Regions from separate parts of the Homo sapiens genome. Here region 1 is linked to region 2. The links come from fine-mapping of genetic effects on gene expression. A gene starts in region 2. The other region holds a variant in brackets. All regions are shown on one strand. Distances are between the middles of the regions.

Region 1 (8,000 bases), 100 kb after region 2:
TGGGAGCTTTTTGGATGAATCTTGAGGCTTTTCTAGGTATATGATCATATCATCAGTGAATGATGACAGTTCGACTTCCTCTTTTCCAATTTGGATGCTTCTTCTTTCTTTTTTTTTATTGGATTGCTCTGGCTGTGACTTCCAGTACTGGGTTGAATAGAAGTGGTGAAGGTGGGGATCTTTATCTGGTTACAATTCTCAGGGGGAATGCTTTCAACTTTTTGCCATTCAGTATGATGTTAGCTATAGATTTGACATATATGGCTTTTATTACTTTCGGGTAAATCTCTTCTATACATATTTTGTTGAGGGATTATAAAGGGGTGCTGTATGTTATCAAATGCTATTTCTGGGTCTATTGAGATGATTATATATATTTTTAAAATTTCTGTTTATGTGATGTGTCACATTTATTAACTTACATATGTTAAACTGTCCTTGTATCTCTGAAACCCACTTGATTGTGATGTATTAGTTTTTTGTTGTGCTGTTGGATTAGTTAGCTAGTATTTTGTTGAGGATTTTTGCATCTATGTTCATCAGAGATATTGGTCTGTAGTTTGTTGTTGTTATGTCTTTTCCTGGTTTTGATATTAGCATGGTAGTGGCTTCATAGAATGATTTACGGAGGATTCCCTCTTTCTCTGTCTTTTAGAACAGTTTCAGTAGGATTAGTACCAATTTGTCTTTGAATGTCTGGTAGAATTCAGTTGTGAATCTATCTTGTCCTGGACTTTCTCTGTTTGCATTTTTAAAATTACTGATTCAGTCTCACTGCTTGTTATTGTTATTGGGTGGCAGTAAACCTTACCCAGCTCTCCTGCAGTTGGTGAGGCTGATCTCACTCCCACAGTGCTCTGCTAACAATGCTTGGTTTAGATCCAGGTAGTCTATAGACAGAACTCAGACCTGCCCCAGGTCATAAGCTTCTCCACATAGAAAGCTGCCATGGCTTTCAAAAAGCCATGCCCCTCTTCGTCTTCCCAGGCATGGCCAGGCACCCAGCTCCTATGCTCCTGTCTGCAGCACACTTCCCACTTGCCGCAACTCCTCCCTCCCCATTCTGTTCAAGGGAATTTGTTCCACTCGAGATTATATTACAAAATTCAGTTGGGAGGTTCTTTCACCCTGTGTCCTTTCCCTGAGCTCATTGGCTGACTTCCAGAGGGTCCCTGTGAGATATATTCAGGAATAGCTTCCCTGGGTTCATGCTGGAGATTGGGAAGTCCTGCTGCGGCTCCTACTTTTTTATTTCCCTAAATCTGTTCCAGCTATTGGAAGGGTGAAGGGCTTCTCCAGTGGCCTGGATTTTCAGATTCCCTGGTGGGGATGTGTACTTGGAGGCAGACTCTTCCCCTCTCGCACTCTGAGGACTTAGGAGTTTTTCACCTGTCTCACGTAGTAGGCTATAGCCTCCCAATTCTTTCACAGGGTCTGTGGATTCTGTTTTCCTAAGTTCCTGTGTTGGTTCTTTGGGAAAAAATTCACACTGAATCTCTGCACATTATTCTGTCCTTCCAAGTGGGAGAAGCATGCTGACACTGCCTCCAGTCTGCCATCTTGAAAAAAAAAAAAAAACAAAAATTAGCATTGAGAAGATTTAGACATAAATTTCCAAACAAATTATAATTCAATTAGAAACACAGATTCTAACTCTTGAATCTTCTTACATAGCCTCTCCTCTCCATACATAAAATTCTCTTCTTCAAATTTAAATTCATGCTCTGCATTACCCCAACAACCTTCTGATTAGTCTCCCTATCTCCAATAACAACCTATCCTATTGTTCTTAGGGGACCAGTGAGCTGTCTAAAAAGCAGAGCTAATCATTCCAGTCTTTCGCTTGAAGTGTTTGCATGAATATTAATTCTAGGTTAAAGTCTAAAATCACATTAAACATCACAAGCTTTAGAAACTTTTTCGCTGGCTTCTTTTTTTCTACTTATCATTTCGGTATACTTAACTCATCTGCAAAGAAACAACTCAATACTGTTCATATTTCCCAATGTGTGTCTCATTTTTTACTCCTCATTGTCTTTGTTTTCGTATGTTGCATTCACTGCTTGGATAGGCAGTCACCCATGCTCTATCCAGTGTTGCCACTTTGAAAGCTTTACTTTAGTACCCTAATGGATATCCCTACTCTGTGCTGCCAGGTACCTGAGCTCACATCTGTCAAAATATATTACAGTGAACTGCTGACATGCCCCCATTTCTCAATTGAGAGGTTTCCAATAGACTGGAAAGTTTATTTGGAAGCAGAGACTGCATCTTACTTATTTTTGTGTTTTTGAGCCTGACACGTTTCCTGGAATGTTTAGGCAATAATAATTTTTTTTTTTTAGGTGGAGTTTTGCTCTTGTTGCCCAGGCTAGAGTGCAATGGCGCCATCTCGGCTCACTGCAACCTCTGCCTCCTGGGTTCAAGCGATTCTCCCTCCTCAGCCTCCCAAGTAGCTGGGATTACAGGCATGCACCACCACGCCCGGCAATGTTTTTTTTGTATGTTTAGTAGACGTGGAGTTTCTCCATGTTGGCCAGGCTGGTCTCAAACTCCTGACCTCAGGTGATCCACCTGTCTCAGCCTCCCAAAGTGCTGGGATTATAGGCATGAGCCATCACGCCCGGCGGCAATAATTGTTAACAGACTACATGAATAATTGCATAGATGGACGATGTCTATCCTCTACTCTCAATTTCCAATGACTTCATTATATATAAATTGATCTCTTTTTAAATGATCAGTTCCTACATTTCTATTCCTTAGATGCCTCTCTTCCCTCTTTCTTTTCATCTGTCTCAGAATTTTGACACCTTTCTTTAAGTTCAGTTCATAAGTCCACTTTTCTGAGTTTTTCTCATTCATATACACCCTTCTACGTGATCTATGTTAATTACTCTATACTTTGGTTGCTGTTGTATTTTAGACACATTTATATTGTAAAATGTGTTTACTATGTAGGTCTTTCTTGCTTGATTGCAAGAGTCTTCAATGACTTTCTATGCAAAAGTTGGTGAAAACAGACACATTTATTAGAGTTATTGTATGTCAGATTTTGTGTTCAGTGCTTTCACATATGCTAGCCTCATTTTCAATATAATCTTTAAACTACTTTGTAAATGGTTGTTGAATGAGTCTTTTACGTACCATATACATTGTAGACATTTAGTAGTTATTAGTTGAATGTATGAGTATAGGATGCAACTTTTCTGCCATTTAAGCTCTCTCTTCCTTTACTTATGTTCTGTTCTTCAGTCAAATTGGCTTATTTGGCTCTTTCTGGACACATCAGCAATTATAGGTTTCTATGTCTTTGCTTATATTGCTCCTTCTACTTGAAGATTTTTATAATCTCTGGCATAACAATTCTTACTAATCCCTCAAAGATAATATTGCTCATAATTTTTCCCATTAGTGTTATTACTAGATCTCTTCTTAAACTTCGCTAAGCTCTGGCTTATCTTCTGCATTTACTATTTTTATGGTTTTATTACAAGTATTTGTCTAGTTGTCATACTTCCCCCTAGACTATATGCTCCATGAAATCAAGCTTATTTATTCATCTTTGTATTTCTAAAGTAGCTCAGCACAATGTTTTATATACAGGCTTTCAGGAACCATTGTACATTTAATTCAGATGAGTTGAGAAGTAGAGGAATGTGCATTAGCATGTGTATGTGTGAGATGGAGCCTGCTTGCTTGATTGATTGGGAGACAGCATACTTAGGGTTTGGCATGCAGGCTCTGCAGCCAGATTATCTGTCCCTGGACAGGTTCTGACTGCAACATTTACTCACTTTGTGACTTTGGGGAATCTAGTTGGTTTTTCTATGCATCTTTTTCCTCATTTATAAAATGTAGATGATACTAATAATACCTACCATCAATGGTTGTTATGACGGCTTAAAATAGCTAAACCTTACCTGTAAGGCACATAAAACTGTGTCTAGCATATAATAAATATTCTATTTTGTGGAATAATTAACCAATTGAAACCTTTAAAAGTGGTCCAAATTCTCTAAATAATGTAATTTACATTTGACTTTGTATGATGGAAGTTTCATACTCTGTAGCAATCTAAAAGCAAAAAAAAAAAAAGAAAGAAAAAGAAAAATTTTAAAAATTATTTTATGTGTATCCCGAGATGAAGGTAGAATTGAAAATAAGAAACTGTCTTGGTTACCACAGGGGGAAAATGGTTTATTTATAGCTCAATTTATTGCCTCTATGATTGATTTCCTGCAAAAGCAATAAGGGCCTTCTTTGGTTTCCCGTATTTTCCTTTCACTTTTAATATGAAAGAAAGGAAAATACTTTCTTTACCTTTCCAGCGAGTGAGATATATATTCTTCTAGCATATTAACTAGCTCAGTTTTCCCTCTAGGTAAAGAAAACACAACCTAATTATATTAAATTAAAAGAAGTGGTACACAGTAGAAATTAAGAGTTTTTACAATGAAAATTTTTAGCAGATACTCTAAAGAGAAAGAAAAAAGAACTAAAGTAGGATTCAAAGAATCACTAGTTAATATTTCTACTAGTTAGCTACCTCCCTTTGTTGCCTGTTAAAAAAAATTTCAGGTATCTTTATGTCAATAAGGAAAATAAAAACTTACATATCTATTGGAGGCCTATTTTGTTCAATTCATTGTAACAAGATACAAAACAACTAAGATGCCAATTGTAATTTTCTACCTGTAAGCAATATTCAGTTTGGGGAAGACAGGATATAAAAAGAAGATAAATACTTAAAATCAGCTCTGTACCATTAGAAAATCACATAAAGAATATCACAAATAATAAATTAATTTACTAGTACATGCATACCTCAGAGATATTGTGGGTTTAGTTTGGGACCACTGCAATAAAGTACATCGCAATGAAGTGCATATTGCAATAAAGCAAGTCACTTAGATTATTTTTGTCTTCCTAGTGAATATAGAAGTTGT[A/G]TTTATACTATACTGTAGTCTGTTAGGTGTGCAGTAGCATTATGTCTAAAAAAATATATGTACCTTAACTAAAAAAGAATTGCTAAAAAATGCTAACAATCAGCTGAGCCTTCAGTGAGTTGTAATCTTTTAGCTGCTGGAGAGTTGTGCCTCGATGTTCATGGCTATTGACTGATCATATGCTGAAAGTTAAGGTGGCTGTGGCAATTTCTTAAAATTAGGCAGCAGTGAAGTTTACTACATCAATTGGTTCTTCCTTTCATGTAATATTTATCTATAACATGCAATGCTGTTTGATAATATTTTACTCACAATAGAGTTTCATTCAAAATTGGAGTCAGTCCTCTCAAACCCTGCCACTGCTTTATCAACCAAGTGTCTGCAATATTCTAAATCCTTTATTGTAATATCAGCAGTGTTCACAGCATCTTCACCTGGAGTAAATTACATTTAAGAAAGCACTTTTTTGCTTTTCTATAAGAAGCAGTTTTCGTCTGTTCAAATTTTATGAGATTTGCATCAATTTAGCCACATATTTAGGTTCTACTTCTAATTCTAGTTCTCTAGCAAATTCTACATCTACAGTTACTTCTTCCACTGAAGTCTTGAAATCCTCAGAGTCATCCATGAGATTTGGAATTCACTGTTTCCAAACTCCTGTTAATGTTGATATTTTGACCTCCTCCCTTGAATCATAAATGTTCTTAGTGGCATTAGAAAGGTGAATCCTTTCCACGAGGTTTTGAATTTTCTTTGCCCAGAGCTATCACAATATATGACAGCTATAGCCGTAGGAAATGTATTTCTTAAATAATAAGACTTGAAAGTCAAAATGGCTCCTTGATTCATGGGCTGCAGAATGAGTACTGTGTTAGAAGACATGAAAACAACATTAATCTCCTCGTACATCTCCATCAAATCTTTTGGGTGATCAGGGGCATTGCCAATGAGCAGTACTATTTTGAAAGGAATTGTTTTCTCTACACAGCATATCTCAACAGTAGGCTTAAAATATTCAGTAATCCAGGTTTTTTGTTCCATTTGTAGAGCACAGGAAGAGTAGATTTAGCGTAATTCTTAAAGGACCTAGGATTTTTGGAATGGTGAATGAACATTGTGTTCAACTTAAAGTCATCACTTTTATTGGCCACTAACAAGAGTCAGCCTGTCCTTTGAAGCTTTTTGTTTTTTTAAATAAAGAACAGAAATTTATTTCTCATAGTTCTGAAGGCTAGGAAGTCCAAGATCAAGGTGCTGACAAATTGTCTGGTAAGGACCCACTTCCTAATTTACAGATGGCCAAACATCTTTTTGCAATATCCTCACATGGTAGAAAGAGTGAGCAACTATCAGGGGGCTTTTGTTTTTTCTTTTTCAACCTTTATTTTGGAGGTTATTTAGGGGGTACATATGCAAGTAATTGCATATTGCATGATGCTGAGGTTTGGGGTATGATTGAACCCATCATGTAGCTTTGAAGCTAGGTATTGACTTCTCCCTAGCCCTAGCATTTTCTAGATAGCATTTTCTTTCATCTTAAGGCTGTTTCATCTACATTAATTATCTGTTGTTTTGTGTAGCCACATTCATCAATGATCTTAGCTAGATCTTCTGTATAACTTGTTGCTTCTACATCAGCACTTGGTGCTTCACCTTGCACTTTTATGTTAGAGAGAGCTTCTTTTCTTAAACCCCATAAACAAATTTCTGCTAGTTTCAAACTTTACTTCTGAAGCTTCCTGAATTCTCTTACCCTTCACAGAATTGAAGCGAGTTGGGGCCTTGTTTTGGATTCGGCTTTGGCCTAACAGAATATTGTGGCTAGTTTGATCTAACCAAACCACCAAAACTTTCTCCATATCACCAGTAAGGCTGTTTTGCTTTCTTATCATTCATGTGTTCACTGAAGTAGCATTTCTAATTTCCTTCATGAACTTCTCCTTTCCATTCACAACTTGCCTAACTGTTTGGTGCAAGAGGCCTCACTTTTGTCCTATGTCAGATTTAGACATGCCTTTCTCACTAAACTTAATCATGTCCATAATTAGAGACTTGTGACTATTCCTTTCACTTGAGCACTTGAGGTCATTTTAGGGTTACTATTTGGCCTAATTTCAGTGTTGTTGTGTCTTAGGGAATAGAAAGTCCCCAGGAGAGGGAGAGAGAAAAGAGAACAGTGTTGGTGGAGCAGTGAGAACATATACCATTAAGTTTGCTGTCTTACATGGGCATGGTTCATAGTGCCCAAAAACTATTTGTTTCACACAAAAAATACTGTTTTGAAACTGAAAAACTGGGAATGATGGCAACAATAGATATGAATTGTGATATGACAGCAATTGGCTAGACCTGTGTGCCAGCTGTTTTTCTTAGATAATCTCTCTTCTAATTCATCACAATCCTTTCCTGGACATCTTTACTAATTTATATTATATACCTGGTCCCCAGATATTTGATTTTTTAATATCTGAAAGCTATTTGGAACCACTGGACTAATAGTGTGTGCCCCTGGATTTATAGAGGTCCTGGTCTTAATCCTCTAAACATTTGTTCTCTTCTCTGCTGGATGTGTCTACTTGGGTCAATAAAGAGAGAGAAGGTCTCCTTCTAGAGCAAGGATCTTAAAGCCTTGTAAAATAGAGGTAGTATTTCTCCCTGGGTCAAAGGATATGCATTATCCATTACAAAATATTTGGGTTCCTTAAGTTCTAGGTTCTACTCCAGAATCAAACCCACAGTGTATGCAGATGTCACCTGGCCCTCTTTGCATCTTTTAGGAGAATTTGTGTTTAGGGAACAAGGGCAAGAAAATGCTGGTACTCTAGCCACTGCTCTTGCTGTGAGTAACAAAGTCCTTTGACTCTGACCCAGTCCTTTGACAGAAACCCAGTATCTTCTGCCACTATACATGAAACTGTGATAGGCCAACTTCTTAGCTTGCAAGAAGAGTAGAATCTCATTCTTTGGTTTTTTAGGATCATGTTCTGCTGGTAGAGAAAGTGTGACTTAATAGCAAAGTAAATAAAACTTACTTATATTAGTCTGTTCTCA
Region 2 (10,797 bases):
CACAAAATGGACTTTTTTCCTATTCTCTCTTCTTTTTTTTTTTTGAGACACAGTTTCACTCTTGTCATCCAGGCTGGAGTGCAATGGTGTGATCTCGGCTCACTGCAACCTTCACCCCCCGAGTTCAAGTGATACTCCTGCCTCAGCCTCCCGAATAGCTGGGATTACAGGTACCCACCATCACACCCAGCTAATTTTTGTATTTTTAGTAGAGACGGGGTCTTGCCATGTTGGCCAGGCTGGTCTTGAACTCCTGACCTCAGGTGATCCACCCACCTCAGTCTCCCAAAGTGCTGGGATTACAGGCGTGAGCCACCACACCTGGCCTCTTATTCTCTCTTCATACTCAGCTTTCTTTCTTTTATGGCTTTGTTCATGAGCTCTCCTCTGACTAGAATGATCCTCCTGTGATTAACTATTAATCCTATTTATCGTATATGTCTTGGTTTAGTAATTACTTTCTCCAAGCTGGGTTGAGTGCCTTTCCTCAGTTCTCATAATGACCTCTGCCTATAGAAATTACTGCTTTTACCACTTGAGTTTATAATAATCTCTTTATGTTCCTTTCTCTTTGGAAACAATGACTGGTTCATAATCATCTTTGTACATCCTGATGTCCAGCATAATGCTTGGAATATATTAGGTACTTTAAAAAAGGCACATTAAATAGATGAGTGAATAAGAAATCAGAAATTTTAGCTGATAACATAAAGATAGGTGCCTAATAAGTTTTGTCCCCTAAAACAAACAAGATAATTAAAATAGAAAAAGATCATTTCCTTTATACTGAGAATAGGAACTTGAAAACCAATAGGGAAGACTTTCTGTAGATTTGCAATATATTAGATCTCTACTGGCATTGTTAGAGTTACTTCTGTAGGTCATTTTCTTCTGATTTCTATATTTGTTTTGGATCTTAATATGCCTTCTTGAGTAGAAAAATGAACATATAACTGGTCTATGTTAATTTTATTCTGATTAGCAGTTACTTTTCATGTAATTACATGGTTTTTACACTATAACATAATCCATGAATTTAGGTTTATTACCTACACCTTTTAGGGTTCAATCACCCTGGATAAATTTGCCAATTTCCTCATCTGGCAAACTGAGTGGTGTGATCAGTACCAAGATCCCCTTCAGCCTTAAAATTTCTGAATTTATATTGTTAATTAAAAAATAAAAATAAAAATTCAGTGTTGTATTTATTTGGTATTAATCAAAATGCATGGGGACTGTAGAGACACTGTTATAACAAATTCTAACTTTACATTCTTCACAAAAATCTTGAGGGAAAAGAAAATTGTCCATTTTTTTTGAATCATGGCTTCTTAGGGAAACACAGGAAACGTGAGAGGGGCATGAAAAAAATATAGAACTGAGACAAAATAGTAGGTTTACTCCAAGTTTACAAGTAGCAATATTTAATGCTTTGGTATAAATCGTCTTTATTACAGAGAACAACTACCAAATAAATCATTGTGTGGAAAAGAATTGATTTGGGAATCAATTGTCTGGGAAAGAAAATCACAAAGAAGTGATTGTGAAGACATTCATTTGTTCTTCAGATATGTAACTGTTTAATCTGAAGTAAACTTTGGGATGGAAAACTATTAGGAACGTTTCTTGCTTAATTTTGCCATTGTACGCTCTGATATTGATTGTTCAGGATTATTGAGCACACATGCTGTAATGAGAATTGTATATAATTTACTATATATACTTACATATGATAGACATTAAAGGATATATGTGTCTAGTAATAGCAGATGCATGTTTCTGCCCACTAAAGAAATGGTTGCAGCTTTTAATAAATATGGCTAAGGGAATGATGTTAAGATTACGTGTGTGTGTGTGTGTGTGTGTGTGTGTGTGCATGCACATATTGTTCTGGATTTCAAATGAGTATACAAAATTATCATTATCTTACACCACTTGCATTGGGATCTTCAGTTTTTCCTTCAAGAAGTGAATTATTAATAATATATTTAACTTTTAGAGTATTATTGTGGTAGGACTCGCCAGTTTCTTGCTACAACATCTATTCATCCCTTTCTCTTTAGAAACAAACTAGAATTTTTATATTGCTTCCCATAATAAAAAACATATTGCCTTCCAGATTTTGCAGCTAAATTTGGCTATGGGACTAAATTCTGGCCTTGAGTTGTTTAAGAGAGATACTTGTGAGAGTTCTCTGAAGATTGGTCAAAGGAAACTAACTCAGATGGAAGATCCATTTGCCCTCCTGCCTTTCCTCTTAGCTTTTAGCCTGAAAATCAGTGGTGATGGCTGGAGAGCCAATAGCCATCTTGGAACACGACGTGATTCTGAAGGTGGGAAGCAAGGCTGGGATGGTACAGAATAAAGATAGGAACTTGGGTCCTTGAGAAAATTGTGGAGCCACCATATCTACCTGTAATTCCTACTTTCAGACCTTTTTCTATGTGTGAGAGATTTATCTTATTTAAGTCATTGTTATTTTTGTTGTTAATACTGTTGTTGTTAAGCTAGCATTCTAGTTGAGCCCAAGCTAGGACTCAGAGTCTGGTTATATCTGATGAGCCCCTGGATCAGCATCCCTCAATGCCAACTATTAAATGTAATGGGTTAATGATGAATGGAACTCTATTTCACGTAACAAAGAACAACTTGTTATGCCCAAATATTACGAGGTCATATTGCTCTTATTTCTCTCTAACCTGAGATTTGGGTCCGTGTTCTCTATGAGAAATTAGAAATTTCTGTTGTGGTATTCTGTTTTTGTGTTAGGATCGTCACTGTAAATCTACTTAATAGTAAAAATAAAATCTTGCTTGGAATTGTGAATTAAATGAATTCTCCATTGTGCAGAAACAGGAACAGCATTATATTTTGTATGTAATACTCTTAAACAGTCAATTCATTTATTCAATTAATATTTTTGAGCTATTATGGGTTACATAAGTTATGGAGGGGCTTTGTTATTTAGTCAACTCATGTCCAATATCACAGGGGTCAGTTGTGAATTTGGAAAAAATAGAAGAAAAGAAAAATTAAAGCAAATGACAAAAGTCTAAATATTTTCCTCAAATAATTGTCTTTTTTTTCCTTAATGTCTTGTGTTTACAGACTGGAATTTAAGCCGCATTTTTCTAGATGGCACCAGCCTATTGGTACATATATTAATGTCAAACAGTAATGCTCAAATTACACGGGTTCACAGCTGTTTCTACATAATTTCTTAAGTATTCTTGCCACGAAGTCTCCCCCTCTTTTCTGGGAGACCTGGGGGAAGGGTCTCACATGTCCTTATGACCGGTTTGCTCACATTACTCACTTACTAGCCACCCTTGTGCTTACAAGATCCTTCATGTAGGAGCGCCACCATTCTGTCTTATGTCAGGATCTTCCAGTAGAACACTGCTGTCCCGTAATAAGGCCATATACATGTTCTTTCTAGGTTACAATTTCCCACACTGCTAACTGATGCTGCATTCACTTTAAACTGCACCCTACTGGGGACTGACTTGTTCTATAGAAATGAGGTGACTGTTTCTCTAGCCAACTCTGTCAGCTTGAAGTACTACTGCTTATGTCCTAAAATCTCTTATGGAAACATTTCTTTGTCTTCTTATTTATAGTCCTGAAGCATGCATCTTTTATTGTGCTTTATCTCTTGTGTCTCTACTGGAGGCACCCGGGGTTTGAAGTTTTATCCCAGCAGTTATTTATTCCCCGTGCACATTTACTTTTTCTAATAATTGGCAGGGAGGACTTCTACTGCTCCATCAGTTTATGAGAGAAAACCAAACTGAATCCGAGTTTCAGCTCAACTGGGAACCCTGCTACACCAGAACTTAACCTGGATTCCAGATTGCTTGATAAAATAGCTAGTTGATGATAAGCTATAATTTCTTGACCACACACACACACACACACACACATGCGTACATATGTACATACAGCAGTTCCCTTCATCCACAGGATATGCTCAAACCCACAGTGCATGCTTGAAATCTCAGAAAATACTGAACGCTATATATACTATGAGTATTCCAATACATACATACCTATGATAAGTTTATGAAGTAGTCACAGTAAGAGATTAATAACAATAACTATTAATAAAATAATAACAATATGCTGTAATACAAGTTATATAAATGTGGTATTTTTCTCTCTCTCAAAATATCTTTTTGTACTATACTCACCTATTTTCAAACCCTGGTTGTCCACAGGTAACTAGAACCAAGGAAAGTGAGATGGCAAATAAGTGGTAAGGGATGCTACCGTATCTCACATACATATATTTCAAAATACGTCAAACCATACACCTCAAAACTTGTAATTTATATCAACATGATATGCTTGATACCATAGGCAATGCCATTTTCTCATTAACTCATCTCTTTCAGTTGCAAAACACCATATAAAAGGAATGGCACATGCTATAACATGTATTTTGGGTATTTTACATTTATCCAGATATGAATATAAGTAATATACTTAGTTATAATGTTCCCTTAAGCCACTGTTTTGCTACATGCTTCTACACATTAATTCTTTTAAAATTTATTTTAAAGGTAACACAGTTTTTTTCTTTTACAGTCTCCCCTTAGTAAATGTAGCTACTACGACTATGAGTAAAAGAGATATGGATGGGTGGAGGAGATATGGAGAGGCCAGCACTTTTGTAGATAAATGCAATGTGAAAACAAGGAACTACTCTTTAATTACTGGCACAGAAATAATGACAAGGAAACAAAATTACTTCCTGAATCACACTTTATCACCTGACTGGTTGCAAAGGCACATTTTTTTTCTGTTTTCGTCAAATTAAAATCTTAACCATGTAAATTCAAGGCTGTAAAGGAAAACTCAGGATCCTTCATAGTAATAATTACAGTATTAAAATTCTTAGTTGCTAGAAAGTGGTTAGAACCATTGAGAAACATTTTATCAGGTTACGTGGTTAGAGCAAGATTTGAAAAAACAAAATCAAAAACAAAAAACCCAATGTAAAATATCAGAACATCTGAGATGTCCAAGCTGAAAAGTGTAATAAACGCTATCAACTGTAGTGGAAAGAAAGTTCCAAAGTATGAAGTCCAGAGCAATTGTTGGTAGCATGAGTGGTGGGATTGAAGTAAACTGAAATAAATGGAAGGCATTTGTTTAACCTATGATATTGCTGAAAGACAAGTCCCAGCACAGTAGCTTTCTCCTTTAAAGACTAGCCAGATGTCGGCCTTTTTAAGAGCACAAAGAAGGGAGCCACAGAAAGAGGTAACAATGCTGGTAGAGAATGGCAGCTACAGTAAGGTTGTTTTTAAATGGATAGAAATCTATGTAAAGGTGACTCCGACAAAACACAGTAGCTGTCTCCTCCTCAGTCATTTAGGCAGAAACTTGCACTAAGTAAAAAGGTGCAAGGTATTTATCAGCAATTCCCATTATCTGGTACTTTTATTGCTTTGGCATGATTAGCAGAGACTGTTTGGCCAGCGTTGTCAACTATTTGCTTTTTCATCAGCCTGATGTTTGGTCTGCAATCCCTCTAAAACTAACAGCAAAAGAGAAACTCGGAAACTTGGGAAGTTTCAGTTGGCATTCAGATGTCACCCCAGCCTACTCTCTGTGAGATTTATTCTGCATTTTAGAAGCTCAGTGGCTGTTGCTCTTTTTGATAGCCAACAAGAAGCAACGTCATAGACCTGTTTGGCTGCTGTCCTGGGTAGAAGGGTTTGGCAGCCCTAGGGAGATGAATTTCTCCAGCGTTGGACCCGCCCAGAGCGGAGAAGCAACACCCTTCCAGCCACTACTCTGTTGCTATGAAACAAAAGACTAGGAAGGTAAGCGAAGCAGGAAGTCCCGCCTTTCAGCCCCAGATGGCTTTGGCTCCCGGTCCCGACGCTCACGCCCACCTGCCACCCCTTATTGGTTAGCTCCTTCGTGCCTTGCATCCCTTCGTCCATTTCCTTTCCCGTTTCCACTTTCGTTCCCGGGAGAGTCCAGGCCCCTCATTTCTCTCCGAGTCCAATTCCTTTCTGACGTGCTGCGAGCGGGCCTTCCTCTGGGGCCATTGTGTACTGTGGAGGACGTGGACGGGGCGGCAGCGCGAGGAGGACGGGCGCCTCCCGTCCATTGGCTGCACCCGCTGTCGGGCAGTGCGCGGTTGCGCGGCATTGGCTCAGCGGCGCCCGGCCCCGCCCCCGCCCCGCCCCGCCCCGAGCCTGGGTCCTGTGTGTGCCACAGGGGTGGGGTGTCCAGCGAGCGGTCTCCTCCTCCTGCTAGTGCTGCTGCGGCGTCCCGCGGCCTCCCCGAGTCGGGCGGGAGGGGAGAGCGGGTGTGGATTTGTCTTGACGGTAATTGTTGCGTTTCCACGTCTCGGAGGCCTGCGCGCTGGGTTGCTCCTTCTTCGGGAGCGAGCTGTTCTCAGCGATCCCACTCCCAGCCGGGGCTCCCCACACACACTGGGCTGCGTGCGTGTGGAGTGGGACCCGCGCACACGCGTGTCTCTGGACAGCTACGGCGCCGAAAGGCAAGAAGGGAAGGGGTCGCCGGGGAGGCTCCACACTTCTTGCCGGCCCGGGGGCCCGGGGTAGCCAGGCGCGGGCCAAGGAGGAAGAGGGGACAGCCCTGGCTCTCAGCTGCCTTTGCCGCCGCCGTCCAGTTTGAAGTGGGGCATTTAAAGACCAGAACCCGCAGGCCGGGGAGGAGGGAGAGGGCGTCCAGGCAGACGGCGGTGAGGACTGCAGCAGGCGGCCGGGAGGCGCGTCCACCCAGGCGCCGAGCCCACAGTGTCCCTCCCGCGCCCTAGACGGACGGTGCTGCGGGCACGGGAGGGACACTTTGTCCCCTCCCAGTCCACCTTCCTCCTGCAGCTCAGACCCGAGGGGCCGGGAAGGGGCCTGAGCAGGGAAGGGACACAGGCGTCCTGAAACAAAGCTTTGGGTTGAGGGCAGAGGCGAGGAGCCAGAGAAGTGAACTCCTCCTTTCCGTGGCCGCTCTTGTCATTTTTCTCTTTTCTCTTTTCAAATGGGCTATTTGTGTGTTAATTTCATTTGGTTCTTGGGAATAACGACTCACCGCGTTGATTTAAAGAAAGGTGTTCGTGTGTCCGTACTTGGTGGTTTTAGTGTGGGACATGCCCTGCGCTTTTGTTGACAACAGAGCTGTCCCTTACGTTTGTGTAGGATAATCTTTATGTTTATGTAACTTGGAGAAATCTAACAGAGTGAAAGTGAAGTTTCTGCGTAAGGCTCCCAAAATGTATGATAGGACCTTCAGTTGTTCTGGTATTTTGAATTGGAATTAAGGCAGGAGGGGAAGAACATTCTGTTTTTATCTAGGTGGGGGAAACCTGTTTAAGTTTTGTTTGTTCTTTTTTTTTTTTTTATGAGTTGAGTATTAGTTCAGCCTTAGCTACTTGAAACGTGAGCAGGATGCATCTTTAACTCTTAGTATTGTAAAAGCAAATCTAGGATCACTGCTCTTAAAACTACTGTGTGTAAAGATTGAGAGTGTAAATTCACAAGCTTATTGATAAAGATGAATCCGGAACTTTTGGTTTTGCTCTAATCGATGGAGGAAGATGCAGTGGTACAAGTTAGTCTCTAGTTTTCTGGTGGGTAAATATTTTCAAAACCAACTAACTTTTCTTTTTTTAAATCTGCCTTTTAAAGAACTAAAATTCCAGATGGCAAACTCAATGAATGGCAGAAACCCTGGTGGTCGAGGAGGAAATCCCCGAAAAGGTCGAATTTTGGGTATTATTGATGCTATTCAGGATGCAGTTGGACCCCCTAAGCAAGCTGCCGCAGATCGCAGGACCGTGGAGAAGACTTGGAAGCTCATGGACAAAGTGGTAAGTTCTGTCTGACGTTGCCTGTGCGAAACACTATTCACTTTGTCTGTGGTTTCTCCAGATTTATTTATACTGTTAATTAATACCAACCATTGTTATGGCAACAATCTTTTGATTTCAATTCATCATTTTTCTTCAACTCTGTGTTTTTTGAAAAGTTGGATTCAAAGACTTTTTTGTTTTTTAACCTTTCATCCTTTCTACTCTTTAAGGTTCAGAGTTCCTCTACATGACTCAGTATGTAAAGTTTTACCATTGGCTGCTTTTTGTTGGTGTATGGCCATAGAATGCTTGGAAGTGTTTGTTCTGTCTTCTGTGAGGTTGTGTTGCTCTTAGATAACAAAAGAGTACCAGCAGGTTATTTAAGTCTTTGACCACTCATGACAATCATCTGGTATGATACTGAAAATATTTACTGGGGAAAGAAACAGATTAGTTCTTAAGTGAAGAAGCAGTAGTTGAGGGAGTTTCCATTTTCATCTTTGAGAATTCATCTTCATTAAGAAACTTTTTTTGTTGTTAATGGGAGAGTTAACAGTTTCTTTCATCTACTATTCCATTTTGAAACAGGAAACCTTTCGATGGCACATTGTTTATTGTGAAAGGAAAATTTATGTTGGGGGTGGTGAGGCTGAGAGTATCAGAAACCTCTGTGGTTTCTGCATGTTGCTTTCAGACAAACTATAATTTCACAAGAAGAAATCATGATGGGTGTCAGTATCCAGAGAAGTCAATCTGAATACCTTACAGAGATTTACTCAGAAACTGTAGCTGTCAGTATCCTACCTTACTAAGTATGATTATAAAATAAATTTAAGATGTAGCTTGCTGCTTTGCAAAAATTAATAATTCTTTTTTTTGAAGCAGTAGCACTGTCCTGGATTTATTAGTAAATGTTTGGAACACATTATGACTTTATTTCATAGATATCTGGGGCCAATTATAAGTTTAGTTGAGGCAAGACTCAGTATCTTTATAACTGAAGAAATGGAGGTTTTAAAAACAAATTTCTGTGTAAGGATGTGCCAAAGCATCCATGAAATCATGTGATAACATTCATCTTTGCTTTGATTTGCTCCTGTCTGTAAATATTGGCTATAAAAGCCACTATCAGTAGTAGTAGCAACATATGAATGTGACAAGATTTCCATTATTTTCATTTATTCTGATGGAAGGGACACACAGATGAATGACTGGCCTGTCATTCTACAGGCAATGGTGCTAAATGCAGAGCCAGAATATTTTTGCCAGATAAATAGCCTTAGTTTTGGGCTTCAGTGTGACCTATTTACGCTTCTGCCAATTTATTCAAATTGTTATATTAAAGTGCTCCAGACAGAATGATGTCATAGTGTCAGAATATTGCAACTTGCTGCTTGGGGTTCAGTTTTGATTTTAGCATTGGATACTTTAGAATAAGGACTATTCAATTGGAAAAATAGCATATATTTGTCAAGCACAATGCTGCCTATCTTGTCTTTGCTAAAGAGTGTGCATTTGAAGGTCACTCTCACTGCCTAAATCATTAGTTGGGGTAAGAGAAGGAATTCAAGGTTTTTCTCTAACTTATCTGCTACGTAAGTGGACAGCAAATGGTTCAGATTCTATAAAGGGGCTGTTCTTTTTCCCCCACCCTCCAACTTTGAGTGGTCAGTGTTTGTACATTTGTGTTAGGACATCAAATCAAAAAGATTTATATAAGGATGTGGTGAGCTATAGTTACTATAAAATCATTATTTTTGAAACATTAAAAATGATGTACACAATTTTGGTCTGTAACTGGTTGTTAACATAAGTTTTATTCACTTTTAATTATTTCACCATGAGTTATGGTAAAATAGATGGTTATTTGATAGTTAAACATCTGCTATTGTTTATTTTATTAACCCTTCTGTGGGTTTAGGTTTAGTCTCTCCAATTGAGAAACTTGACCCAACAAGGAAATCTATTATCAAAAGTCTCTACTTAGTGGGATGTGGGTGCGGGTGTTGGCAAATGTACATTGCCTGTTTGTCTTCATTATTTGTCAAAGATGAAAATGGTTGTGTTCATTTGTGAATGTACCCAGGGGCTTTGTGGAGAGAAATTGCATAAATTATTATGAAAGAATTCAGTATGTTTATTTTTACTGTAAGATACAGTAAATAGAAAGGCATTGATAATTACTAATTGGCAGTATATAAGTGTGTAGTACAGAAACATCCCCCTCTTTTGTTTATCTTTTCTTATTTGTTAGTGGTGAAGGAAGTGGCTCATAATATCAACATTGTCCTGATGATTACATCAGGAACTTTATTATTAGTTCTGAAGTTAATCCCTTGACACATTACCTTTTTAAAAAAATAACTGCAATAGCATGAATTTAGTTTGTGAATAACAGAAAATAGCAATTTTCAAGTCTAATTGGTAGGTATGTAAAAGGCAGAGTTAAGTGTATAGTTAATATTTTTTTCTTATGAAGCCTCTTTGCAAGGGTAGATCTTGGAAGTATAAATATGAACACAAGCTTCAATTTCAGTGTGTTTCAGCTACCAATAAAGTAAAATAACTATTTTTACAGGGAATAATGAAGCAGTCTTGGGTTGTAGGGGAAATATCTAGTGAGTATGTAGTTTTACCATTTCTTGGCCTCTGGAATTTAAAATGGTCAATTGAAATTCTTTCCAATTAATGTTCTGTTTTCAGAGGGCAGGCTTTTGCTCTAAGGTCACTGAGAATAGGAGAGCGTAATTGCTCAGTTGTGTTCCTTATAAGATGTAGAGTGTTTTGTAACAGAAAATCAGTAGCACAGAGTTAGCATAGTCTATGTTTTGAGGAAAAGAATAGTAGATAGTAGCATATCCCAAAACATCCCATTACAGATTTTCTGGCCTTAGCTCTGTGTATGTGTAATTTGATAGCCGACCCAGAAGCCCTCACATCAGTGGATGCTTATTTGATACAGTGATAGA

Direction of the effects. Positions count from the first base shown, and alleles are read on the strand shown. Sizes are in standard deviations (SD) of each study's normalised expression.
For the expression in non-classical monocytes of the gene that starts at base 6,244 in region 2, G is the high allele of the variant in region 1 and A is the other (large effect, 0.87 SD a copy in Schmiedel 2018).

What was found. PIP is the estimated chance that this variant, and not a neighbour inherited with it, causes the effect. A credible set is the group of variants that fine-mapping cannot tell apart.
Region 1: its variant is the best candidate, but not a certain one, in a credible set for the expression of CBLB in non-classical monocytes (Schmiedel 2018, PIP 0.81).

What each region holds. Positions count from the first base shown.
Region 1 is chr3:105,763,661-105,771,660 of GRCh38, reverse strand. The region is part of intron 4 of CBLB (Cbl proto-oncogene B); the gene reads left to right. Among named protein-coding and RNA genes, the nearest start is that of CBLB, 100 kb to the left of the region's middle. The variant A/G (reference allele first, on the strand shown) is at 4,950.
Region 2 is chr3:105,864,459-105,875,255 of GRCh38, reverse strand. CBLB (Cbl proto-oncogene B) reads left to right here and starts at 6,244. Exons shown (of 19, transcript NM_170662.5): 1 at 6,244-6,520; 2 at 7,665-7,846. The coding sequence starts at 7,679. It overlaps LOC105374024 (a long non-coding RNA gene), which reads left to right. Exons shown (of 3, transcript XR_007095990.1): 3 at 1,458-1,692. RefSeq lists a silencer at 6,046-6,275 and enhancers at 8,033-8,122, 8,243-8,292, 8,323-8,372.